Linked DNA regions of Homo sapiens. The protein of the gene in region 3 interacts with the protein of the main gene of each other region in a biochemical or structural test. Each region holds a gene or a part of one and is shown on either strand. Other genes may lie near its edges. The genes, in order: TRIM21, MARCHF1, UBE2H, EPS15, UBR2, UBA1 and GID4.

What was found.
Region 1: the proteins of UBE2H (region 3) and TRIM21 form a complex in vitro, tested with the Homo sapiens proteins (one study listed by BioGRID).
Region 2: the proteins of UBE2H (region 3) and MARCHF1 form a complex in vitro, tested with the Homo sapiens proteins (one study listed by BioGRID).
Region 4: of the proteins of UBE2H (region 3) and EPS15, one has a biochemical effect on the other in vitro, tested with the Homo sapiens proteins (one study listed by BioGRID).
Region 5: the proteins of UBE2H (region 3) and UBR2 form a complex in vitro, tested with the Homo sapiens proteins (one study listed by BioGRID).
Region 6: of the proteins of UBE2H (region 3) and UBA1, one has a biochemical effect on the other in vitro, tested with the Homo sapiens proteins (3 studies listed by BioGRID, with this or other methods).
Region 7: the proteins of UBE2H (region 3) and GID4 form a complex in vitro, tested with the Homo sapiens proteins (one study listed by BioGRID).

What each region holds. Positions count from the first base shown.
Region 1 is NC_000011.10:4,387,550-4,390,702, forward strand, and holds part of TRIM21 (E3 ubiquitin-protein ligase TRIM21), read right to left. Parts: intron 2,910-3,153; 5' UTR 2,861-2,909; coding exon 2,453-2,860; intron 2,201-2,452; coding exon 2,105-2,200; intron 982-2,104; coding exon 751-981; intron 1-750. UniProt on the Homo sapiens protein: E3 ubiquitin-protein ligase whose activity is dependent on E2 enzymes, UBE2D1, UBE2D2, UBE2E1 and UBE2E2.
Region 2 is NC_000004.12:163,530,520-163,534,019, forward strand, and holds part of MARCHF1 (E3 ubiquitin-protein ligase MARCHF1), read right to left. Parts: intron 1-3,500. UniProt on the Homo sapiens protein: E3 ubiquitin-protein ligase that mediates ubiquitination of TFRC, CD86, FAS and MHC class II proteins, such as HLA-DR alpha and beta, and promotes their subsequent endocytosis and sorting to lysosomes via multivesicular bodies.
Region 3 is NC_000007.14:129,851,961-129,855,460, forward strand, and holds part of UBE2H (ubiquitin-conjugating enzyme E2 H), read right to left. Parts: intron 1-3,500. UniProt on the Homo sapiens protein: Accepts ubiquitin from the E1 complex and catalyzes its covalent attachment to other proteins. E2 ubiquitin conjugating enzyme that transfers ubiquitin to MAEA, a core component of the CTLH E3 ubiquitin-protein ligase complex.
Region 4 is NC_000001.11:51,397,267-51,400,766, forward strand, and holds part of EPS15 (epidermal growth factor receptor substrate 15), read right to left. Parts: intron 1,900-3,500; coding exon 1,766-1,899; intron 1-1,765. UniProt on the Homo sapiens protein: Involved in cell growth regulation. May be involved in the regulation of mitogenic signals and control of cell proliferation. Involved in the internalization of ligand-inducible receptors of the receptor tyrosine kinase (RTK) type, in particular EGFR.
Region 5 is NC_000006.12:42,672,029-42,675,528, forward strand, and holds part of UBR2 (E3 ubiquitin-protein ligase UBR2), read left to right. Parts: intron 1-1,762; coding exon 1,763-1,859; intron 1,860-2,097; coding exon 2,098-2,165; intron 2,166-3,500. UniProt on the Homo sapiens protein: E3 ubiquitin-protein ligase which is a component of the N-end rule pathway.
Region 6 is NC_000023.11:47,203,829-47,207,328, reverse strand, and holds part of UBA1 (ubiquitin-like modifier-activating enzyme 1), read right to left. Parts: intron 3,062-3,500; exon of another isoform or gene 1,468-3,061; intron 1,382-1,467; coding exon 1,216-1,381; intron 1,082-1,215; coding exon 885-1,081; intron 1-884. UniProt on the Homo sapiens protein: Catalyzes the first step in ubiquitin conjugation to mark cellular proteins for degradation through the ubiquitin-proteasome system.
Region 7 is NC_000017.11:18,052,908-18,056,407, reverse strand, and holds part of GID4 (glucose-induced degradation protein 4 homolog), read right to left. Parts: intron 2,282-3,500; coding exon 2,174-2,281; intron 1-2,173.

The DNA.
Region 1 (3,153 bases), on a different chromosome or scaffold from region 3:
AGTGTGTTGGAAAGCCTGGTTTACAGACAGGTGTAGTGGCTCACTCTTGTAATCCCAGCACTTTGGGAGGCTGAGGGGGGCAGATCACCTACGGTTGGGAGTTTGAGACCAGCCTGACCAACATGGAGAAATCCCATCTCTACTAGGGATGCAAAATTAGCCAGGTGTGGTGATGTGAGGCTGAGGCAGGAGAATCGCTTGAACCCGGGAGGCGGAGGTTGCAGTGAGCCAAGATCACACCATTGCACTCCAGCCTGGGCAACAAGAGTGAAACTCTGTCTCATAAATAAATAAATAAATAAATAAATAGAAAGCCTGGTTCAATGTTGGGCAGAAGAGAGCCTGTCAAGTCAACCCAATACAATTAGGTTTTCTGCACAAACCTGAAAGCAATGGCTCATGACCACTCTGAGTGACACTGAACAGGTGTGGGAAAAGAGCTGTAGAATGTTAGAACAGAAGGGACTTGTGAGACCATCTAGTCCATAGTTTCCTACAGTGAGGCAAACATATCATTGGTGGATGCAAGATGATTCTAAGTGCAACATAAATTGATTTTTAAAAAGGTCCTGTACTTATTTTCATCTTTACTTTGCGTCTTGAACGCGAACCTTTCATGGGTTTGAATTCTACTTCATTTAAGAACATTCCAGGGACCAGGTGTCCATTTATTCAAATGGCAGTTCCAGATAGCTCTGGTCTTTTTCAGTTATTCCCTGAATTGTAGAAGGAAACCCCTCCCTGTCTCACCTGCAGCAGTTCCAGTGCTGAGCTGTGGCACCTTCGATCTAGCTCTGAGATGAGCTCCTGTAGGGCCTGGCTCTGCTGGGCCAGCTTGGCCTCTTTCTCCCCCAGGATTCTCAGCTGCTCCCTCTCATCCTTCTCCAGCTCCTGCAGCTGCCTCTGTTCTTCTTCAACCAGGAAGTTTTTTTGCTGCACAAACTCTGCGTGAATCCTAGATTTCTGTGTTTCCACTGTTTTCTTTAGTGTCAAGGGAAAGGGAGAGGTGGTTTTTATGAAAATCTCCCAAGCTTTGGGAATGGAGGTATTGGTACCTATTCCTATCCCCAAGAGACTCCACTCTGTGCTGTCTGGGAAAACACACACACATGCACACGCACACGCGCGCACACACACACACACACAATTTTGCTTGGGAGGTAGGTGGTTGAGGTTTCTGGGACAGTGAGGGGAATGGACTTGGTGAGGGCACACTGTAGCTGGCCTACAACGACAGCTACACGAATATATGGCATTGGGGACTTTTTCCAACCTCTCTTCCAAGCCCAGTCACCACTCAAATGTGCCCCTGTGTCTTCCTGTCTCAGTGAGTTACTGAGAAAAAAATCACCTGTTCCCACCTCCAACAACCTCACAAAGCCAGGCTCACGCCACCACCTCTAAGTCCTGGGAAAGGGGGCTTGGGGACATTCTTTGCTTTTCCTCTCCTGTTAGTAACTGGAAGGTCACTCGATGACACATGAGGGTCTGTTTTGTCACCACAACCCAACTCACACCCTACCTCAATCCCAAATCTTCCTCTTCTGTGATCTACTGGGGATGGGCTCCTTCTTCTCCCCTCTCATCCCTGACATGCCCCACCTCTCCTAGGAAATCATCAGTGCAGAACAAACATTGATTCTTCATTATATTTTGGACCAGAGATCTGGTCATGGTCAAGTAACCACCTGGTCAGATGGTTTCCTTAAGTTTATTCCTCACAGCCCTTGTCATTTCCTGAAAGGCTTAGCTAGCAGTTGGGTTTCTACTAGGATATTTGTCTCACACATCCAGGTGCTGACGCCATCACACCTCTGAGACTAGACTCAGAGGAGCTCGAAACTTTAGGGTATAGCTAGATCCTCTCAGCACCTTCTTCCAGGATTCTTGATCTTCAGGCCTGATGGGGAGCTCCCCTTTGAACCTGCATCATTTTTATTCCCCTCTATTTGTAAACCTAGAGAGCAGCTGGCTTCTGGAGAGTGAGACGGACCAACTCTATCACTGCTCAGAGAGGCACAGCTACGGTTAAGGCTGTGAGTTGAGGACTCTGGACCCTGCCCAGCCTTCCAGCCTAAGATCTCCTTCAGGATGTCATTCTTACCTTCCAGTCTGCTCTCTTTATTGCAATTTCCACTTCCAACTTCTCAGCCAACTCCTGCTTTCTTCTCAGTTCCCCTAATGCCACCTGGAGCTTCTCCTGCAGAGAAAGACAGCTTATTCGTCCCCCATGCAAACCAAGTAATAGGGTGGGGTAATCCTTGCAGCATTTTCTCATGCATATCTCCTACGCCTGGGGAATGAGGTTGGGTTTAACTTATAATTCTCCTCCTACATTAGACATGGAGAGAGGTAAACCCCTCCTTTCTCTAACCCCTCCAATCCAGAGGTGGTCCTCTCCCATTCCCTGCTCTGAAAACGAAGCACTCACCAGGTGTCTCTTAGGCCTCACCTGGTACTCCTGTGCAGCCTCCTCAAGAGGGACCATGGCGTGGTCACGGTGTTTCCGAGACTGGGCACATACCCAGCAAAGGGCCTTCCCATCTTTCTCACAGAACAGGTGAAGTCTCTCTCCATGCACTGCACACCGTTCCCCCTGTGTGCCCTCTCTGGCCTCCTGGCTGATTTCTTTAAGGTTGTTCACCATGTTGGCTAGCTGTCGATTGGGCCGGAGATTCTTGAGCAGAAAGCGCTGCCGGCACACAGGACAGACGCTGCCCCCACCTTTCCCAACCTGAGAGATGCATTCCTGGCAGAAGCTGTGGCCACACTCGATGCTCACAGGCTCCACGAAGGGGTCCAGGCAGATAGGGCATGTGACCTCCTCCCACATCATTGTCAAGCGTGCTGCTGAAGCCATTGTCAAGTGTGCCGTTAAACAGCAGTGTGGAGACCTTTAGGGGGTTTGGCTGGGAGAGAAGAAGAAAGGGAAAAGAGAATATGAGAAAGTCTGTGTAAGAAAAACAAAAAGTCAACATAATCCCTATCAAAATACCAATGACATTCTTCACAAAAATAGGAAAAAACAATCCTAAAATTTATATGGAATCACAAAAGACTCAGAATAGCCAAAGCTATCCTGAGCAAAAAGAACAAAACTGGAGGAATCACATCATCTGACGTCAAATTATACTGTAGAGCTAAAGTAACCCA
Region 2 (3,500 bases), on a different chromosome or scaffold from region 3:
AATGCTTTGGCTCTGACTCTTCCTTTGAAATTTTTGGGGAAAAAATGTTCTCTGATCTTAAAAGGGATTGTAAGAAAACATGAAAAGCCTCTCACTGTTGTTGATGTTTCATTAATTTGTTGCTCTGTTTGGCACTGTCAATTTAAAATAAATTTCTATGCCTCTTTCAGCAATCAAATCTGAACTTAGTTTTTGAGTAGATTAAATATATGCAATCAAATTTATTAGAACCTTTACCGGTAGCAAAGGTAAATTTTTTCTAACTAACTCCTAATACGCAAGGACTTCTTTATGACTTGAATAATTCATAGTAGTCATCATCTTGAATATTTACTTAATCCTAATGGAAATAATACTTCAAAATATCATTGGCCAAAGCTCACACAGGAGAAATAAGAGATCATTACAGTGGCAGGTGTAATTAATAGGCAGATAATTAAATATCCCTAGATCTATTAAAGAAATTAAATCAACCATAACCTTTCAGAGCAGAAAGCACCAAGCTCAAATAGTTTTACTAGTGGATTCTACCAAACATTTAAAGAAGAAATGACATCAATGTTCTACAGTCTTTTCCAGAAAATAGAAGAGATAATACTTCCTAACTAATCGGGTGAGACTAGCATTACCCAATACTAAATTCGGCAAAGACAATTACTATGAAGAAAAGTTATAGGCCAGTATCTCTCATGAGCAGATACAAAAATTCTCAACAAAATATTAGCAAATTGAATTCAACAATGTATAAAAACAGTTACACACTACAGCCAATAGAGATTTATTCTAGGTATGCAAAGTTGGTTCAAGTTTCAGAAATCAATGTAATCACATCAATTAGCTAAAGAAAAATGTGAATATATCAATAAGTGCAGAAAACACATTTGACAAAATACGACGCTCAATCATGATAAAAACTAGGAACGGAAGGGAATTTCCTTAATGCGATAAAGAACATAGAAAACCTATAGCTGACATAATGGTAAGAAACTAGATGCTTTCCCCCTAAGATCAGGAACAAGACAAGGATGTTCCTTCTTACCATGCCTATTCCGCATCACACTGGAAGTCTTAGCTAATGCAATAAAACAAGAATAATAAAAGATGATTGAGAAAGAATAAATAAAACTATCTTTGTTCACAAATGATATGATTATGTATAAAATCTCAAAGAACTGATTAAGTTTTTTTTTTAAATAGGTGATTATGACAATGTTGCAGGATACAAAGTTTTACAAAAAGTCAATTGCTTTCCTATATATAGCAGTGAACAACCAGAATTTGAAATTAAAAACATAAGCCCATTTACATTTGTGCCAACAAAACAAAAACAATGACAACAACAAAAACCTTAGGTGTAAACCTAACAAAATATGTACAAGATTTATGTGAGAAAAACTATGAAGCTATGATGAAGGAAATAAAAGAATATCTGAATGAAATAAGATGTTCCACATTTATGGATAGGGAGACTTAATATTATATTATTAAGATATCTATTCTTCCCAGTTTGATCTACAGATTCAATACTATCCCATTCAGAATTCCAGCAAGTTATTTTATGGATATTGACAAACTGATTCTAAAGTGTATATGGAGAGCAAAAGACCAGAATAGCCAACACAATATTGAAGTGGAAGAATAAAGTTTTTGAAAACTGACACTATCCTTGATTACTACCACTACGGTGATCAAGACAGTGTGGTATCAATGAAAGAATAAAGAAATAAATCATTGAAACAGAATAGCCCAGAAATAGACTGATACAAATATAGGAAACTGATCTTTAACAAAGGAGCAAAGGCAATTCAATGGAGAAGGGATAGTCTTTTTAACAAATGGGTGCTGGTATAACAATATCTGCATGCGAATAAATGAGTCTGTAAACAGACCTTAAATTTTTCACAAAAATTAACTCAAAATGGATTATAGAACTAAATGTAAACTGTGAAACTATACAGCTTCTAAAAGATAAGAAAATTCAGGTGACCAAAGTATGATCTATGAAAAGAAAAATGGATCAATTGGACTTTATTAAAACTAAAACCTTTTGCTCTGAGGAAGTCACTGTTAAGAGAATGAAAAGCCACAGGAAAAAATATTTGCAAAACATATTCTGAAAAAGGGATTTGTATCCAAAATATACAAAGATCTGTTAACATTCAATGATAAGAAAATAACCTAATTACAAAATGAGCAAAAGATTTGAACAGATATGTCATCAATGAAGATAAACAGATGGTAAGATTATTAATATATGTGATTAGAGAATTGCACATTAAAACAAGATATCATTATATACCTATTAGAATGGCTAAAGTTTTAAAAAAGAACACTGAAAACACTGAACGTTGGAAAGGATGTGGAACGACAAGCAGGAATTCTCATTCATTGCTGATAGGTATGCAAAATGGTACAGTCACTTTGGAAGACAGTCTGGCAGTTTTTTACAATGGTAACCACAGCTTTTCAAATGATACAACATTATACTTATTCAAATGAACAAAAACTTACGTCCACACAAAAACCTGCACACAAATGTTTGTAGCAGCTTTATTCATATATTTGTTCAAAGCTGGAAATACCAAGTGGTTTTTCAATCTGTGAATGAATAAACTGTGATACATCCATGTAATGGAGTATTATTTAGTGATTAAAAAGAAATGAGCTATCAAGCTACAAAAGGACACGAAGAAACCTTAAATGTATATTGCTAAATAAAAGAGGTCAGTCTGAAAAAGCTACATACTGCGTGATTCCAACTATGTGACATTCTAGAAAAGGCAAAACTGGAGATAGTAGGATCAGTGTTTGCCAACAGTTTAGGAGGAGAAAGGAAGGGATGAATAGGTGGAACACAGGGACTTTTTAAGGCGGCAACACCATTCTGTATGATTCTGTAACGGTGGACACAGGACGTTACACGTTTGTCAAAACTCATAGAACTGTACAACACAAAGAGTGAGCCCCAATGTAACTATGAACTTTAATAATGTAAGAATATTGGCTCCTCAGTGGTAACAAATGTACCACGTTGAGGCAAGATGTTAATAACAGGAGAAACCTTGTGTATGTGCAGGGTGGTATGTGGGAACTCTCTCTTTACCTTCTTTGTAATTTTTCTGTTAACCTAAATCTGCTCCAAAAATAGTCTTTTATATATAATATATATATATATATTTATATATATTAGCTCCTTACTTGAGAGATTAGTTCCATGAATTCATCACTGTGTCTAGGTCAGTTTATAGAATTTCTTCGAGTAAGAGATGGGTTTGTGAGCATTTAGGTATTTGGAAATTGGTAATGTATGCATGATATATTTATGGAAACTATTGCACAAAAACACTCCATTTCTTTTTAGCCATGCCCAATGGAGTTTATTGTGCCTAAAATTTGCTGCAGTCTTGCACAATAAATGCTCATGATCTATACCTCTATTTATTTTATCGTCATCCTCAGCTGCCTGATTTCTCTCATCCAGTGCCTTTCTTAGTAAACTT
Region 3 (3,500 bases):
ATCCCAATAGTACTGGACAGAATTGCTCTACTTGGCCTCTATCTACAAATAATGACATCCAGCTGTTCCAAAGGCAGGATGACGTTTGTGATTCAACATGGACAGATCAATACTGAAGTTCTCAAGCTGTTCAAATAGTAGTTGGCCAATTAATCATCCATGAAGACACATACATGTATTTCTTATCTGTGTAGTTACACTAAAATGTTTAGGAAACAGCATGCACTAATCCAGCATAAAGCATTATTTTAAGATATACCTTCTGCCAAAATCTGAATTATTTGGGAAGATTCACAGACTATCTAACTGAAAAGGGGATGGGATAAGTGTTAAATTTGTATTTTAAATTTCTAAATGCCTGGTAAAATAAATTTTAGGTGCCTGTAGTCCCAGCTACTCGGGAGGCTGAGGCAGGAGAATGGCGTGAACCCGGGAGGCGGAGCTCGCAGTGAACTGAGATCGTGCCACTGCACTCCAGCCTGGGCGACAGAGCGAGACTCCGTCTCAAAAAAAAAAAAAAATTTGTATCTCTTGCCTAATCTCAAAGTCCTTGAAGTATTCCTTCTGTTGTAGTCAATTTTATTTGCCTGTTACTAACTCCCCAGATAACTCTAGGGGAAGACTTTTCCCAAATGTTGATTTTTCTCTCCAGCAAAATAAGAGTAGAAGTATCTAGTCCACTGGCTAGCAACCCTAAGAGTGAAAATGTAAACTGCCCAATTTCATAAGAAAATTGTCTTCCACCTCACTTCTCCACAACTTTTTTTTTTGTTTGTTTTTTTGAGATGGAGTTTTGCTCTTATTGCCCAGGCTGGAGTGCAATGGTGCAATCTGGGCTCACTGCAACCTCCGCCTCCCGGGTTCAAGCAATTCTCCTGCCTCAGCTGTCCGAGTAGCTGGAATTACAGGTATGCGCCACCACGCCTGGCTAATTTTGTATTTTTAATAAAGATGGGGTTTCTCCATGTTGGTTATGGCTGGTCTCGAACTCCCGACCTAAGGTGATCCGCCTGCCTTGTCCTCCCAAAGTGCTGGGATTACAGGCATGAGCCACCGTGCCCAGCCTACAACTTAATCCATCATATAAATAATTTACGAAGGCAGTCAAAGAATGAGTAAAATGAAAGCTGGAGAGAGAAACACATTTGCAGGGATCAAGCATGCCTGGTCCAGAAGGGTGGGATGAGAGAGAGATTAAAGCTGTATCGCAGTGAAGGCACCTGGGCCCCCAGGAGTGCAGGGTGATAAGCCAACTACAGATAAAATATATTTTGGAGAAAAAAAGGAAAACTGGAAAATAGAAGAGTGCTTAAAAAGCTACCTGTGGCTTAATGAACTCTCCTATCAGTCCTTAAAATTAATTTGTTTTGAAATGGAAATCCAGATCCCCTTGGCTACATTTTATGTTTCTCAGAGCTTCTGTCACTGCTGTCTGGAAGAGCAGGAAGGGATGCAAAAAAAAAGATGCTATCATGCAGGAAGCCAAAATCACTTTGGTCATCTGCTACTTTCTGTTTAATGTCATAACAATAACAATAGATAACTTCATACTTGATAACTTCATACTGATGGCAAGCATCTTACAAAATTAATCCGATTCCTCACTATAATTAGCTCTCTTGTAAGGTTAAATAATACAAAATTAAAAATTACTGGGTGAGTAAACCACAATTATACCAATTTTGAACTCTGAATAAACAAATTGCACATACACTTGGCAAAGAGAAAACAGGATAAGAACAGAAGCAATGAGTCAACTGGCTTACCAGAAATCAATGGCGGGGAAGGGTGTGAGGGGACAGAGGACTAAATTTACTGCTAACATGAATGTTGTTTAATATCAGGCTATGATTAACATACATCTGAAATTTCAACTGTGAATTGTTGTTACGCTACAAATATGTATACCCACAGAACAGTACATGTCCTGGGGCAAGGTAAATGGCAGGAAATTTCACAATCCACTCCCTGCTCCCTCATCGAATCTACAGCAGAGGAAAGTGTTGAAACAAGTTTTAGGTGCCAGGCTTAGCCTTTTGCTTTTCAGTTGAATATTTATGTTGACACGCCAACTTTCTCCTATTAGTTATTTAGTGTTAGTTTTTTTTTTTTTTTTTTTTTTGGCGGGGCAGGGGTTGGCGGGGGCAGTCCTTTGAACTAAGATTCTCTCAGGAACCACTGCAGGAAATGAAGTGATTCAGAACTCACCAATTATGAACTAACCTTCAATGCCAGAGGCTTTAACAGTTTCTAATAAAAATTCAGTTCAGATCTCAAGTTCAGATAAGTCTGAAAAAACACTTCAAGGTCATCTGAACGAACATATTCTACCAGTACTTTATATAATTGTATTTACCTGTTCCTAAAACTTTCCGTGAAAGAAATGTTGAATTTTCTTCAGAAATAGTTTTGAGCAAAATGTCAAAACAATTCTCCCATGCTCAGTGTACTTTTGACTATACTCTGAAAATATTTCTTCTTGTTTTCCTGCACTTACCTGTTAGTGTGCTCACACTCCTGTATTATGGAACATGTTCAGTAACTCATACACATGTAACACAGAAGTCTGCTTTCAGTTCACTTGGACCAACGTGGTTTAACTCTTGCTGCTTATTAAATGCTTTGCAAGCTAATGTAAGTACACTAACATTTTATAAATGTGATGAAAACTTACTCATGTTGGCCACTTTACAAAGTAGTCTATCAGTCCTCAAATAGTTAAACATATTATCCAGCAATTTCACTCCTAGGTATATACCCAAGAGAAATGCAAACATGTCTACACAAATACTTGTGCACAAATATTTATAACACTCATAATAGCCAAAAGACAGCAATAACCCAAATGTCTATTATCTGACAAATAATGTGGTTTATCTACACAATGAAATATTATTCAGCCATAAGAACTTCCGATACATGCAACACGGATCAACCTTGAAAACATTATGCAAAGTGAAAAAAAAAACAGTCACAAAAGACCACATATTATATAATTACGTTTCTAAGAAGTGTCCAGAAAAGACAAATCCACAGAAACAAAAAGCAGATTCGTGGTTGCCTAGGGCGAATAGTTAAAGGGTACACATTTATTTTTGAGGTGATGAAAATGTTCTAAAATTGACTGTGGTGATGGCTGCATATAACTGAATGTATTAAAAACTACTGAATTACACACTTTAAATGGGTGATTTGCATGTCTGTGAATTATAATTCAGTGAAACTGTTATTTTTTTAAAAAACCTGTTCTGAGACATGAAGTACTTGACAGTCAGCAAACATCTTTCACAAAGCTTTTCTGGTCAATGGTAAAAGCTTTAGCAAAACTAAACATCAATTTACTTCATTGTAATTGGAACCAGATTGCAGTATTTTGATATGTACATTTTTAAGATGTGAATGTAGTTTAAGAAAACACATCATTACATCAGATATTCCAGGCAGCCTGCCATGAGACATTTTTACCAAAAAAACCATCTTAAAAGGAATCCATTTAATCA
Region 4 (3,500 bases), on a different chromosome or scaffold from region 3:
ACAGAGGAAATTAGATAAACTGCAGCTATTATTATATTGCCAATCTGGTTTTTTGTTTTGAATGGTGAAATTACAAGCTGTAAAGCAAGGACAATATTCCTTTAGAAAACTGGGAATAAAAGTCAGTAAAACAAATGGTAGAAAAATCTCATGGGGGACAGGACAAGAGGAATGTATTCATTTTTAAATTAGAAGAGCTAATTTAGCTTTCTTGCTCTTTAGATGATAGGAGAATGAGAGGCTAGAATAAGAAGGTGAGAGGAGAAGAATTCCAGTAGCAGCAATTTTAGAAGAATTTGGCAAATGGGTCCACATTGCAAACTAAGTGCTATAGGAAAACAGAGTATCCAGCAGCCCAGGGAAACGAAAAATATTCAGTCACGAAGGTATCTGTCCAGTTTTTATTCAATGGAAAACACCAGTTCTTAGCCAAGCAGCTCTTTACTGAATACAAAAAAGAAGCAACTTTCAATAATACAAAACCTATTATCTTTAAAATAATCAATTACATTTTAAAGGAAATATTCTTAATCTAATAGTACTAGAAGACAAATTTTTTGCTTCAAATGCTTCTCAGTTAACTGGTCCTTTATAGGTTCAGTTTACCTACAGACATGAAACTGTGGTCTCAAAAACGAAGTCTCAAAATACAAATTAAAAAGCAAAACCAAAAACCTGCAAAACCATTCCTAACTATTGAAATTGGGTAATGGATGCATGGAAGCTTGTTAAAATATTTCATTACATTATTCTCCTTTGAGTATTTCTAAATATCCACAAGATGAAGATTTTTTTTTTTTTTTTTGAGACGGAGTCTCGCTCTGTCACCCAGGCTGGAGTGCAGTGGCGCGATCTCGGCTCACTGCAAGCTCCGCCTCCCGGGTTCACGCCATTCTCCTGCCTCAGCCTCCTGAGTAGCTGGGACTATAGGCACCCACCACCGCGCCTGGCTAATTTTTTGTATTTTTAGTAGAGACGAGTTTTCACCGTGTTAGCCAGGATGGTCTCGATCTCCTGACCTCGTGATCCGCCCACCTCAGCCTCCCAAAGTGCTGGGATTACAGGCGTGAGCCACCGCGCCCAGCCATGAAGATTTTTTTAAAGCCTCCAGATAAAACAGCAACTAGCTATAGGACCTTAAACATGTTAATTTTTCTAAGTCCCAGTGTCCTCATTTTTAAAATAGGGATATCAACACCTACTTTGCAAAATTGATGTGAAGATTAGAAACAATGAATGTAAAGCACACACCAGTACCTGGATCAGGCATGTGGTTATTAAACAGTGATTGCTGTAGGTATGTACATTCTCAAGAGAGCTTGACATTTAGTGAGAATTTGTACTTTGCAGAATTAACATTCCAGATGTGTCTATGAAATAACATAAACGATTTTATTTTTCTAAAATTCTTTTAATTTTCATTATTTCAATAATATACCAAACATTTCAGAAAAGTTTTATGTAAGATTGGCTTATAAATTTCCAATCATTTTTAGTATCCTCAATAGGATAAGATTTAGTCTCTTGAAAGATGAACATCACTTTTGGACTCCGTTCAGTCATTCCAGTTAATTCCAGTGGGTAATCAAACTATGAAATACCAGTCTGAACCAAAAACTAAATGAATTGGGATGAGACTGAAATTCTTATATGGTCCATTAGAAGTAATCTAAATGAGGGTTCTTTCATCACTATGTATTTCAAGAAACTTGCTTAGGACACTTATTATCCATTTAACTTAACAGTTTTTAATTCTCCCACTTACCGATGTAATACTGCTATTGTTGGCTGCACTGAAAGGGTCAGTGCTTGAAGTGGCAAAAGGATCAGTAGATTGCCTGAAGAAACAGTCTGATGCAAATGGATCTGAACCTTTGAAAGGATCACCACCAAATGGATCTAAAAAAATAAGGCACGAATATAAGAGACAAAAAAAAATTATTGCACTAAATTTCCCATCACTTGAAGGTATGATCAGTGCCTTAATTAAAAGACAGTCTGGGGCCAGGTGCAGTGGCTCACGTCTGCATTCCCACCACTTTGGGAGGCTGAGACAGGCAGATCACTTGAGGTCAGGAGTTCAAGACCAGCCTGCCCAACATGTCAAAACCTCCTCTCTACTAAAAAACACAAAAATTAGCCAGGCATGGTGGTGCGCACCTATAGTCCCAGCTACTCGGGAGGCTGAGGTGGGAGACTCACTTGAACCTGTGAGGCAGAGGCTGCAGTGAGCAAAGATCTGCCACTGCACTCCAGCCTGGGTGACAGTGAGACCCTGTCTCAAAAACAAACAAACAAAAAGACAGTTTGGGCCAGGTGCAGTGGCTCACACCTGTAATTCCAGCACTTTGGGAGGTTGAGGTAGACGGATGACTTGAGCTCAGGAGTTTAAGACCGGCCTGGCTAACACAGTGAAACCCTGTCTCTACTAAAAATACAAAAATTAGCCAGGCGTGGTGGTGCGCGCCCGTAATCCTGGCTATTCGGGAGGCTGAGGCATGAGAATAATAGCTTGAGCATGGGAGGCGGAGGTTGCAGTGAGTCAAGACCGCACTACTTGTACTCTAGCCTGGGCAACAGAGCAAGACTGTCTCAAAAAAAAAATCCAAAAAGACAGTTTGAAATACTGTAGAATCTAAGCTGAGTACTTTTTATTTCACAGACTCCTTTGCAATTTTGATAAAAGATACAGAACCTTCCACCTAATAAACTTATTTTTAAAATTAACATATAATTTCAAGGGATCCAATTTTAAGTCCCCTTATTCTACGCTACCGTAACTAAAGAAAACACAATAAAAACTTCTAAATGTATTTTTCTCTCTGAGCTCAAAGCTAACAGCCAATAGTTTAGAACAGGTTTGGGATGCAAAACTAAATGGTAAACAAGATTTGCATTATTCTAATGAAAATTCCCAGAAAAAGAATATCTCAAAAAGCCTGATGTTTTAGTAATTCTTCAAGATTCTCTGCCTCTAATCACACGTGTGGGCTATAATCTTAGGAAAACAAAATTACATTCTAAACCCTGAAGCAGTATAGATCATTATGCTCACCAAACCTTTAGTTAGTAAGGAGGAATCAGAATAAATATTTAAAGCACCAAAGTCTAAACACTAATGTCATTTTTAAAAAAGTAAAGCTATCGGGCACAGTCGCTCACACCTGTCTGTAATCGCAGCACTTTGGGAGGCTGAGGCAGGAGGACTGCTTGAGCCCAGGAGTTCGAGACCAACCTCGGCAACACAGTGAGACCCTGTCTCTACAAAAAATAAAAAAAAATCAGTCAAGTATGCTGGCATGAGCCTGTAGACCTAGGTACTCAGGAGGCTGAGGCAGGAGGATTGCTTGAGCCCAGGAAGTCAAGGCTGCAGTGAGCCATGATCACACCACTGCATTCCAGCCTGGGTGACAGAATAAGACCCTGTCTCAAAAACAAAAAACACCAAAAAAAAAAAAAAAAAAAAAAAGAAGAAGTAAAAGTAAAGCAACAATTCATTA
Region 5 (3,500 bases), on a different chromosome or scaffold from region 3:
AAAATTGAAGTCTTTTTTTTTTGAGATGGAGTCTCACTCTGTTGCTCAGACTGGAGTGCAATGGCACAATCTCGGCCCACTGCAGCCTCTGCATCCTGGGTTCAAGCGACTCTCCTGTCTCAGCCTCCCGAGTAGCTGGGATTACAGGTGCATGCCACCGTGCCCAGCTAATTTTTGCGTTTTTAGTAGAGATGGGGTTTCACCATGTTGGCCAGGCTGGTCTCAAACTCCTGACCTCAGGTGATCTGCCCATCTCGGCCTCCCAAAATGCTGAGATTGCAGGCATGAGCCACCATTCCCGGCCTAGATACATTTTTTAGCCTGGGCATTCACATTCAGTTGGTCAGCAGAGTCTGACAAATTCTCACCATTCCTTCTTCTACTTGTTTGGTTCAGCCCCATATTATTTCTTGCCTAGATTATCATAGCAGTTTTTACCCAGAATCTCACTCTTCTCTAATACGTTATTAGAGGGGCTCCTCAAAAGCAATCCTGTTCATATTCTTCATACTTTTACAAACTTCTTAACCTATTTCTCCATTATCACCTCCTGCCAGTTCCCACCCCTGTGGTCCAGACTTGTAGAATCACTGCCAGTTCCTCAATGCTAGTTCCCATGCCTTTGCACATTCCATTTCCTCTGCCTAGAGTACCCTAAGCAGACTGCTACTCTTTCAGATGCTGTTCAAGCTTTCCCTTCCCTTAGAAAGCCCTCTGAACCATGTACTGTGAGTTAGAGACCTCTCATCTGTGATGCCTGCCTCCTTCCCCACTTTCTTCCTTTCCCACCCCAGGACTTTAAGCTCTTTGAGAGCAGGAGGGGGAGAATGGGTTTTATTTGAAGATCTTCAGAACCAAGACCTAGTGTATATAGTAGGACCTCAATATTTATTGAACCAAACATTACAGAAAATTTGGAAAATGAAAAAACAAGCAGGAAGAAAAAAGTCATCAACTTATCACATACCCATCTTTTTCCATTAGCATATTTATGCTTGATTACAATTGGTACTCACATGTAGCTTTGTTTCTGCTGTATTCTTTAAATCAAGAGTTTTCTTATTACTGCTACTTAGTCCTCATAACAATTTTTAATAGCTGCAGGCACCCTCATTTGTACCACCATCTTCTTAGACAGTTTCCCCAATATTTGGAGTATCTCTTTAGGATACTCTACATTTTACGGAAGAGTATCCACATTTTAGAGGATCTCTTTAGGATAAACATAAGAGATATGTGTTTTAGGGTATCTGTTTAGGATAAACATAGAGAAATACTGCATCCGCATCTTGGCTTGTTTATTTGTTTTTTGAGATAGAGTCTCGCTCTGTTTTCCAGGCTGGAGTGCAGTGGTGTGATCTCAGCTCACTGCAACCTCTGCCTCCAGGGTTCAAGTGATTCTCCTTCCTCAGCCTCTCGAGTAGCTGGGATTACAGGTGTGAGCCACCACACCCGGCCTGCACTGGCATCTTGGGAGTGTCCCTTGCTTTCTGTCAGATGCGTATATTCTATATTCTTTTCTTTTCCAGAGAAAACCAGCAACATGGTGGCAAAGAGATAGATTTCATTTATTCAGCACACACTTAGACATTTCCCATTCCATTTATCCTGTGTTAGAGGCATGTCATTGAGATGTCATAGATCTAGTTCCATACCATCTAGAGCAGTTTCATTGTGCATCCAGCTGTGCTCTGAACTAGCATTCCTGAAAGAGAACTGCTTTGCATTTTTGTTTTTTGTTAATTGCGTTGGTTTATTTTAGGATGACTGTCTTAGGTCATTGACGAGATTTGCCGCAGCACACTGGACAGTGGCATCAGTTTCAGTGGTGCAAGGACATTTTTGTAAACTTTTTGCATGTGAGTATTAATACATTTATAACATGTTGTAATTTTTCATCCTCTGAAATTTTGTTTTTAATGGTACAGCTTCTCTCAGTAATGAATTAAATATTTAGTAGTACTGGTTTTCTTATATATAAGCTCTAGCTTATAAATTCTCATGTGTCTTGCAAGAAGATAAATTTAAAGCAGATTATATGCATTTTAACATGTTGGCATATGAAATATGCTAATGTATTTCTCTTTAAATCTGTAGCACTGGTGCCTAATGACAGCCATGAGGAACTTCCATGCATATTAGATATTGACATGTTTCATTTATTGGTGGGTATTGTGCAGTTTGTTTGGACTTCTACGTCATACTATGTAACTTTACCTTAGGTTTGGTGAGCAGTGTAGTGGCAGACAGGAAGGAGTTATGTGATTTCCTTACCCCTTCTGAGTATAATTCTTTTATGAGAAACCTCAAAAAGAAAATATTTAGGAACCTAGTTGAGAGACTTGACCTGGTTATCGAGACGTCCTCTGACTCTTATTTTGCTTTATGGCTGAGGTTAGTATTTTAACCTCTCTGTGCTTTTAACCTGTAAAGAGATAAAAACACCAGCAACGGGTCAGGTGTGGTGACTCATGCCTGTAATCCCAGCACTTTGCGAGGCTCACCCCAGATCACTTGAGGTCAGGAGTTTGAGAGCAGCCTTGCCAACATGGTGAAACCCTATCTCTACTAAAAATACAAAAAATTAGCTGGGCGTGGTGGCACATGCCTGTAATCTCAGCTACTCAGGAAAGTGAGACAGGAGAATCACTTGAACCCAGGAGGCGGAGGTTGCAGTGACCAAGATTGCATGACTGCACTCCAGCCTGGATGACAGAGCAAGACCCCATCCAAAAAAAAAAAAACAGCAACAGAAGCACTGCTGCTGGCCCATACAGTGCTTTTGTACATTTTCGAAAATCTGGCAGATACAGCCCTGTGGTCACACTACTTAGCAGCAGAGAGCCCCTTATAATTCAGGGAAAGGTATGTCCTCTGAGCCAGGACATCCTAGTGCTAAGACACACAGCTGTCCAAATAGTGGGTAGCCAAATTTCAGCCCTACCTCAACTGGGTTCCCTTGCACAGGGTACAGAGTGTACTGCCACACCCAGCAGCCCCGAGTGCTGTGCCTTTATTCTCTGGACCTCAGATTCTGCCCCTTTAAGTTGGTTAGTACCTACTTTATATGACTATGTCAGAACTCAGTGAGTTAATCCATGTAACACACTTAGAGCAATATATTCCTAATAAATGCGGCTATTACTGTTCTCATTGCTGCAACTAAAACCACCACCACTTATACTGCCATGCAGACAGCAGGAGGCCAACAGAGCTAGCATTTGTGTACCTGCCAGCTTTTACATACGTTCACACTTACATCTCTACAATTTACATGTAACATATTGTCTTTAGTTTACCAATAGGGAAACTGAGGCCTGATCAGAGATATTAATTTGTGTAAAACAGCTCATAAGAGGAGGAGGTAGGATTCATATCTAGATATTTATGGGTCCAAAACCCATGTTTTTTCAACTGCCTACAGTCCTGGAGAGAGTTCAGATACTGTTTTTGTTAACAATAAGCTATGTATAGAGGACCCACTGGATTAATGAAATCAT
Region 6 (3,500 bases), on a different chromosome or scaffold from region 3:
TTCTTCCAATGTGGCCCAGGGAAGCCAAATGATTGGACACCCCGAGCTAGATAATATATGCACTGTTCTGTAGATAAATGCACCATACACACAGAATCATCCTGACAAACCAGCTGTTAAACTCATTTTGAGTAACAGCTGGGGAAAACCTGAATATGGACCATTAGAGACAAATAAATAACTAGAAGAGATGGTAAGAATGATTGTTAATTTTGCTGAGCATGAAAATGATGTTTCTGTTAGACAGAAGTAGTTCTCAACTGGGAGTGATGTGGCACCCCTGGGGACATCTGGCAATGTCTGGAGACATTTTGAGATGTCATGATGGAGGGAGAGTGCTATTGGCATCTAGTGGGCAGAAGTCAGGAATGCTGAGAAACATCCTACAGTGCACAGGGCATCCCCTCTCCCATGACAAATAAATAACCAGCCCCAAATGTCAGTAGTGCTGAAGCTAAGAAACCCTGTTCTACAGCAACATATCCTCACTTGGCAGAGGCACTGAAATAGTAGGGAGTAAAGGGCTGTGATGTCTGTGACACATTTAAGCACAAAGAAGAAAAATCTACATAAATCTAAGAAGAAAATGTGGCAAAACATTAAGAATTGTTAAATTTAGGTGAGGAATGGTATTTGAGTATTCATCATAATATTCTTAATATTTGTCTATGTGTTGAAAAAAAAATCAAAATAAAAGTGAAAAAAGAATGAGTCATTCTAGAAACCTAGGCTGCCTGGTGGGAAGTGAGGGAGGGAGGTTTGGAGAAAAGGCACATCTTACACTTAGGCATGCAACATCTGAAGGCAAGGCAAGGGCCTGGGGGCGGAGAGGCAGCAGCCTGGCCAGATGCCTGGCCTCTTTCCCTTCTCCCACAGCTTATCACCTGCAGGGTGTGCTCGATGGCATTAGGGAAGTTCTTCAGGGTACAGATGGGGATGGACTTCTCAGGTGGGTCCTGGCTGGAACTGTACGACTCTGTCAGGAAGGGGATCACCACCTGCACATTGCCTTTGGTGCCCAGTGTGCCTGACTCCAGCAGTGGCTTCCGGTAGTAGACACAGCGGCGGTCCATGTACATGCCTGTGGGGAGCACAAAGCGAGAGCTAGGAAAGAAACATCAGGAGAGGACAGAAAGACGGACACCCCTCTTGGTATATACACACCGAAACACACACAACTTTGCCCGTGACCACCTCACCCGCCTCCAAACTCACGGGCATCCACGTTGTCCAGGGCATTGGCCACGCCATCTAGGTTTTGGAAAAAATCGTCATCATAGATGCGCTCCGTGTCAGGACCCACACGGTTCTGGTGGCTTGTCACCCGGATATGTGGATTCATTTGGCGCACAGCTGCAGCAGCCGTGTCAGACTTTAACTTCTAAAGGGTTAAGAAAGTGCAGTTCCAGGGTGGGGATGGGGGAACAAAGCTCACTTATTTGTGCATTCACCCAACAAACATCTTTATTTTTTTTGAGACAGGGTCTCTCTCCATCACACAGGCTGGAATGCAGTGGCATGATCACGGCTCACTGCAGCCTCAACTTCCCAGGCTCCAGCGATCCTCCCACCTCAGCCTCCCGAGTAGCTGGGACCACAGGTGTGTGCCACCATGCGTGGCTAATTTTTGTATTTTTGGTAGAGACAGGGTTTTGTCATGCTGCCCAGGCTGGTCTTGAACTCCTGAGCTCAAAGACCTCGGCCCCACAAAGAGCTGGGATTACAGGCGTGAGCCACCGCACCTGGCCCAAACACCTATAAAGGGCTGTCTGCCTGAGACTGATTTACTTAATGCTGGGGAAGACCCAGGCCCTGAGTTAGGAGGCTAGCAGGAGAGACGGTCTGTGACAATGCCACATGGCCAGGATGATGATGCATGTGGCAGGGGCTCAGCATAAAGGGAAGCTGTGGACAGGAACAGACTGGAGACAATGGGCCAGACATCTGTTCTTTCGTCTAACACCTGCTATTTTTTCAGGTAACAGCACCCAGGATTGATGCAGACTCCCCCAACCACCACCAGGATGCTGGCACACAGACAAGCAGGATCCTTTCAAAGCCCAAATTGGGCCACGTCCCTCCTCTGCTCAGAATCCTCCCCTGGATCCCACCTCCACTTACCGTAAAATGAGTTGGCTCCCTGACCCCTCCCACCTCAGGATCTTTGCGCAGGCTCTTCCACAGCAGAGGGCACTCTAGTCCCTCATATCCTTGAGGTCTTTGCAGAACTCAGGCCTTCCTTAACCATTGTCATCAATACTACAAACCATTCTCCCTGACACCCCGACTTCCCTTGTCTGGTTTTAGTTGTTTCCTTTGAGGAGCACTCATCACCAACATTAACTATATACCTCACGATCGTATTGTGTCTATTGTTTGCTGTCCGTTCCCCTCTCCCTCCAGGAATCTTGTTTTATTCCTTGGTATATCCCCAATACCTAAAACAGTACTAAAACTATCTGGTGAATAAATGAAATAAATGAAAGGGGGAATAAATCCTGGGTAAGCAAAAACGACACTGCTCCTTACAGAAAGCTTCTCAGAGAACCCTGCATAACCAACCCAGTTTCCATATGTGCAGAGAAGTGTAAGCCTAGGAGACTGAAACTACAACCCTTGGAAAGGCCTGCTTCCAAGGTCGGCTCCTTGGCTGGTGTCTGGGAACTTGGAATTCAGGAAGGTTCCCACCGCTCCCTACCTGGTATCAGTGGTTCACTGTGCCTAAACCGTTCATGCAAACAATACAGTTTACGCTGAACACCTTTCCTTCTGGGAGTCTGGAAATTTTGTTATGTGCCAGGAAGGGGGCGCCTACATGACCAGCCCCAAGTAAAAGAGGTGGTGCTGAGTCTAACAAGCTTCCCTGGTTGGCAACATTTCATGTCTTGTTACACCTTGTTGCTGTTATTTCTGTAGTTACTGTTGCTACTGGGGAAATAAAGGCCGCCTTGTTTAACTCCCGCTGGGAGAAGACTCCTAGAAACTTGCACCAGCCTTTTCCCTTTGCTGATTTTGGTCTGTATCCTTTTGCTGTAATAAATTGTAGCCACAAGCACGACTATATGCTGAGTCCTGTAAGTACTCTAGGTGAATTGAGCTTGAGAGTAGTTTTGAGGACCCCAGACACACTGTCCCAACCAGCACTAAAAAGAGGTTAAGGCAAAAAAAAAAAAAAAAAAAAAAAAAAAACAGAAGCTGAGGGAAAGAAAGGCCAAAAAGAAGGGCTTCTGGCAGAGGCAGAAAGATCTCTGACAGAAAGAATGGGAACAAGAAAAAGGAGGGGTGAGGTGTGGTGGCTCACGCCTGTAATACCAACACTTTGGGAGGCTGAAGCAGGCAGATCACCTGAGGTCGGGAATTCGAGACCAGCCTGACCAACATGGAGAAACCCTGTCTCTACTTAAAATGCAAAATCAGCCGGGCGTGGTGGCGCATGCCTGTAGTCCCAGCTACTCAGGAGGCTGAGGCAGGAGAATCGCTTGAACCCAGGAGGCAGAGGT
Region 7 (3,500 bases), on a different chromosome or scaffold from region 3:
CCACCTGCTGGTGGCCAGCACCTTCATACACCACTTGGGCTCCCCCAACCTTCTGGATACTCAGGTCTTGTGCATTCTCTTGTATCACAGAGAGACACAAATGACTGTCTAGTTTTTAGTGTCCATTTGCTACAACAATCAAAATGTATAGAATTCAAAAAACGCTTTAAAAAGCTCAAGTTTAAATTTAAATTTAACTGAACCTCAGTATTTGATAGATCTCCTTTTTTTACTCAAGTAAAAAACAGCTTGGGGCTGGGCATGGTGGCTCACGCCTGTAATCCCAGCACTTTGGGAGGCCAAGGCAGGAGGATTACTTGAGGCCTGGAGTTCAAGACCAGCCTGGCCAACATGGCGAAACCTTGTCTCTACTAAAAATACAAAAATTAGCCAGGCACGGTGGTGCACGTCTGTAATCCCAGCTACTTGAGAGGCTGAGAGATGAGAATCACTTGAATCTGGGAGGCGGAGGTTGCAGTGAGCAGAGGTTGCAGTGAGCCGAGATTACGCCACTGCACTCCAGCCTGGGTGACAGACTGAGACTCTGTCTCAAAACCAAACCAAACAAAACAGAACAAAACAAAACAAAAACCCCCATAAAAGAAAAACCAAAAAAACAGGTTGGGTCAGTGGCTCACACCTATAATCCCAGCACTTTGGGAGGACAAGGCAAGAGGATCACTTAAGATCATGAGTTCAAGACCAGCCTGGGTAACATAGGGAGACTCTGTCTCTACAAAAATAAAAGAAAATGAGCTCAGTGTGGTGGCACGTGCCTGTAGTTCTAGCTACTTGGGGCGCGGAGGTGGGAGGATTACTTGAGCCCAGGAGGTTGAGGCTATAGTGAGCTATAATCATGCCACTGCACTCCAGCATAGACGACAGAGCAAGACCCCAACTCTAAAAAAAATTTTTTTTAAATAAAATAAACAAATAAAAAACATTAGTAAGCAAAGCAACTGATCTCTAGTGAGGTGAACTCAAGACAAGGGTCTGCGGGAGTTCTCTCCACAGACTGCTGTGCCAGAACCAGGGGAGAGTTTAGATAGCCAGGTGTGAGAGGCAATGGGAAGAACGAGTTCTAGAATCTTTGCTACTGACACAGCCATTTCTGGTTGGTTTATGGAGGGTAAACCCATTGAACTTCTTCAATGTTAAACAAAAATTCACCATCACCATGGTCAACTAAAGCAAAAGGCTATTAGGTTGAGAAAATGATTTTTTTTTTTTTTTTTTTGAGACGGAGTCTCACTCTGTTGCTCAGGCTGGAGCGCAGTGGCACAATCTCGGCTCACTGCAAGCTCCGCCTCCTGGGTTCACGCCATTCTCCTGCCTCAGCCTCCAGAGTAGCTGGGACTACGGGTGCCCACCACCACGCCCAGCTAATTTTTTGTATTTTTGGTAGAGACGAGGTTTCACCGTGTTAGCCAGGATGGTCTCAATCTCCTGACCTGGTGATCCGCCCGCCTCGGCCTCCCAAAGTGCTGGGATTACAGGCGCAAGCCAACGCGCCCAGCCGAGACACTGATTTTTGAAGACATGGTACTTATATGACAACAAATGAAAAGATCCCAGGACACTAACTGTCTTGAAGCATTCACTACTGCTGAGTGAGAATGCTCTACACTTGACAGTTAAAAAGGGGGGCAGCAGGATTTATAGTGGTGTACTTAAGACAAGACTATACTTGTCTGTCAGCAGCCAGGATAAAAAGAAATGATGTGGCTCTGCCCTGATAAGCCAGTGGGCAGGCAGATTCCCACAACATCATCTCCATCTCATGCCAGCCCCGAAGCCGGAGGTCATCATTGCATGTTTCACAGGGTTTTCCCCAAGCAGAGGTGATTTGAAAGGAACAGTGGACAGAAGATGGACAAACAGGTGGGAAGGATGGGGGGACACTGTTAAGATTCTGATAGCTGAGCAGAGTTCTGGCTGGAACTCTGGGGTTGCTATCATCAGACAACCATTTGCTATTTAAGCAGCAGGTCAGATCGTATTTAAACTGTCCTCATAAGGAAGATGGAACAACTGAGGTCTGTGTGCAGTGCAACCTTTTACTTGGTTGCAAAGCCCCAGTAATCCTCAATAAGGGACAAGGTCTCTGGCTCCCAGCATTTCTTCAATTCTCTAGCAGCCCCTAGATGACCCAGCACAGATCAGATTTACTCACCCAGTGTTTCCGATCAACATCTTCATCTGCATCCCACTTGCGAGTTAAGAAAGGGTGTTTTTTGCTGATTATTTCTCCTTCGAAGAAGGTTGTAAGGGTTGGATACTCCTATGGTAAAAACCCAAATATCAAAATAAGATGTTGAGTGAGAGTTTTTAACCTTTGTACAAAGGAAAAATAAACTTTGCTTTAACTTCTTTCCAGTACCTAGACACTGCTACCTGACAATCCAAACCAGAGTTAGATCGCAGCCAGTTTGCCAACAGGCTGTGGCAATGGACCTGAATCTAAATCACCCAGAGAATGAAGGGTTTCCTGGATTTTGCCAGCAGCAGACAGCCCTTCTTTGACTTCAATTGTTACATGCTAGTCTCTTAGAAAATAATTTGGATGTTTCCACAAATAAATTTTTAATATTCTAGCATACAAAGCAGATCATAACTTGGTAGATTTTACTTTCCAAGGTTAGACCCAAAGAGGCTCCAAAATCACTGTGTCTACCACTAAGGCTCCCTCAAGCCACTGGTTCTCCAACTGGCTCAGTCATTTGTCCCTTTTACACCAATTCTCCAAGGTTCCAGGGTGGATTCTGGGGTAGAATACTTTTTTATTTTTCCTGAGACAGAGTCTTGCTCTGTCGCCCAGGCTGGAGTGCAATGGCACAATTTCGGTTCACTGCAACCTCCTCCCACACCCTGGGTTTATGTGATTCTCCTACCTCAGCCTCCCGAGTAGTTGGGATTACAGTTGGCTGCCACCACGCCCACCTAATGTTTGTATTTTTAGTAGAGACGGGGTTTCGCCATGTTGGCCAGGCTGGTCTCGAACTCCTGACCTCAGGTGATCCACCCGCCTTGGCCTCCCAAAGTGCGAGGATTACAGGTGTGAGCCACCGCACCCAGCCTAAAATACCTTTTATTTTGGCCAGGCATGGTGGCTCACGCCTGTAATCCCAGCACTTTGGGAGGCCGAGGTGGGAGGATCACCTGAGGTCAGGAGTTCAAGACCAACCTGACCAACATGGAGAAACCTCATCTCTACTAAAAATACAAAATTAGCCGGGCGTGGTGGCGCATGCCTGTAATCCCACCTACTCGGGAGGCTGAGGCAGGAGATTGCTTGAACCTGGAGGCGGAGTTTGCAGTAAGCCGAGATCACGCCATTGCACTCCAGCCTGGGCAATAAGAGTGAAACTCTGTCTCAAAAAAAAAAAAAAAAAAAAAAAGTAAATACTTTTTTCAGTGTTCTACATGTTCAGAGAAACTTCTAGTAATGAACTATACAAATGGTCCCTGAAGGTAGTCTTAGAATACCTTGATACATAGGG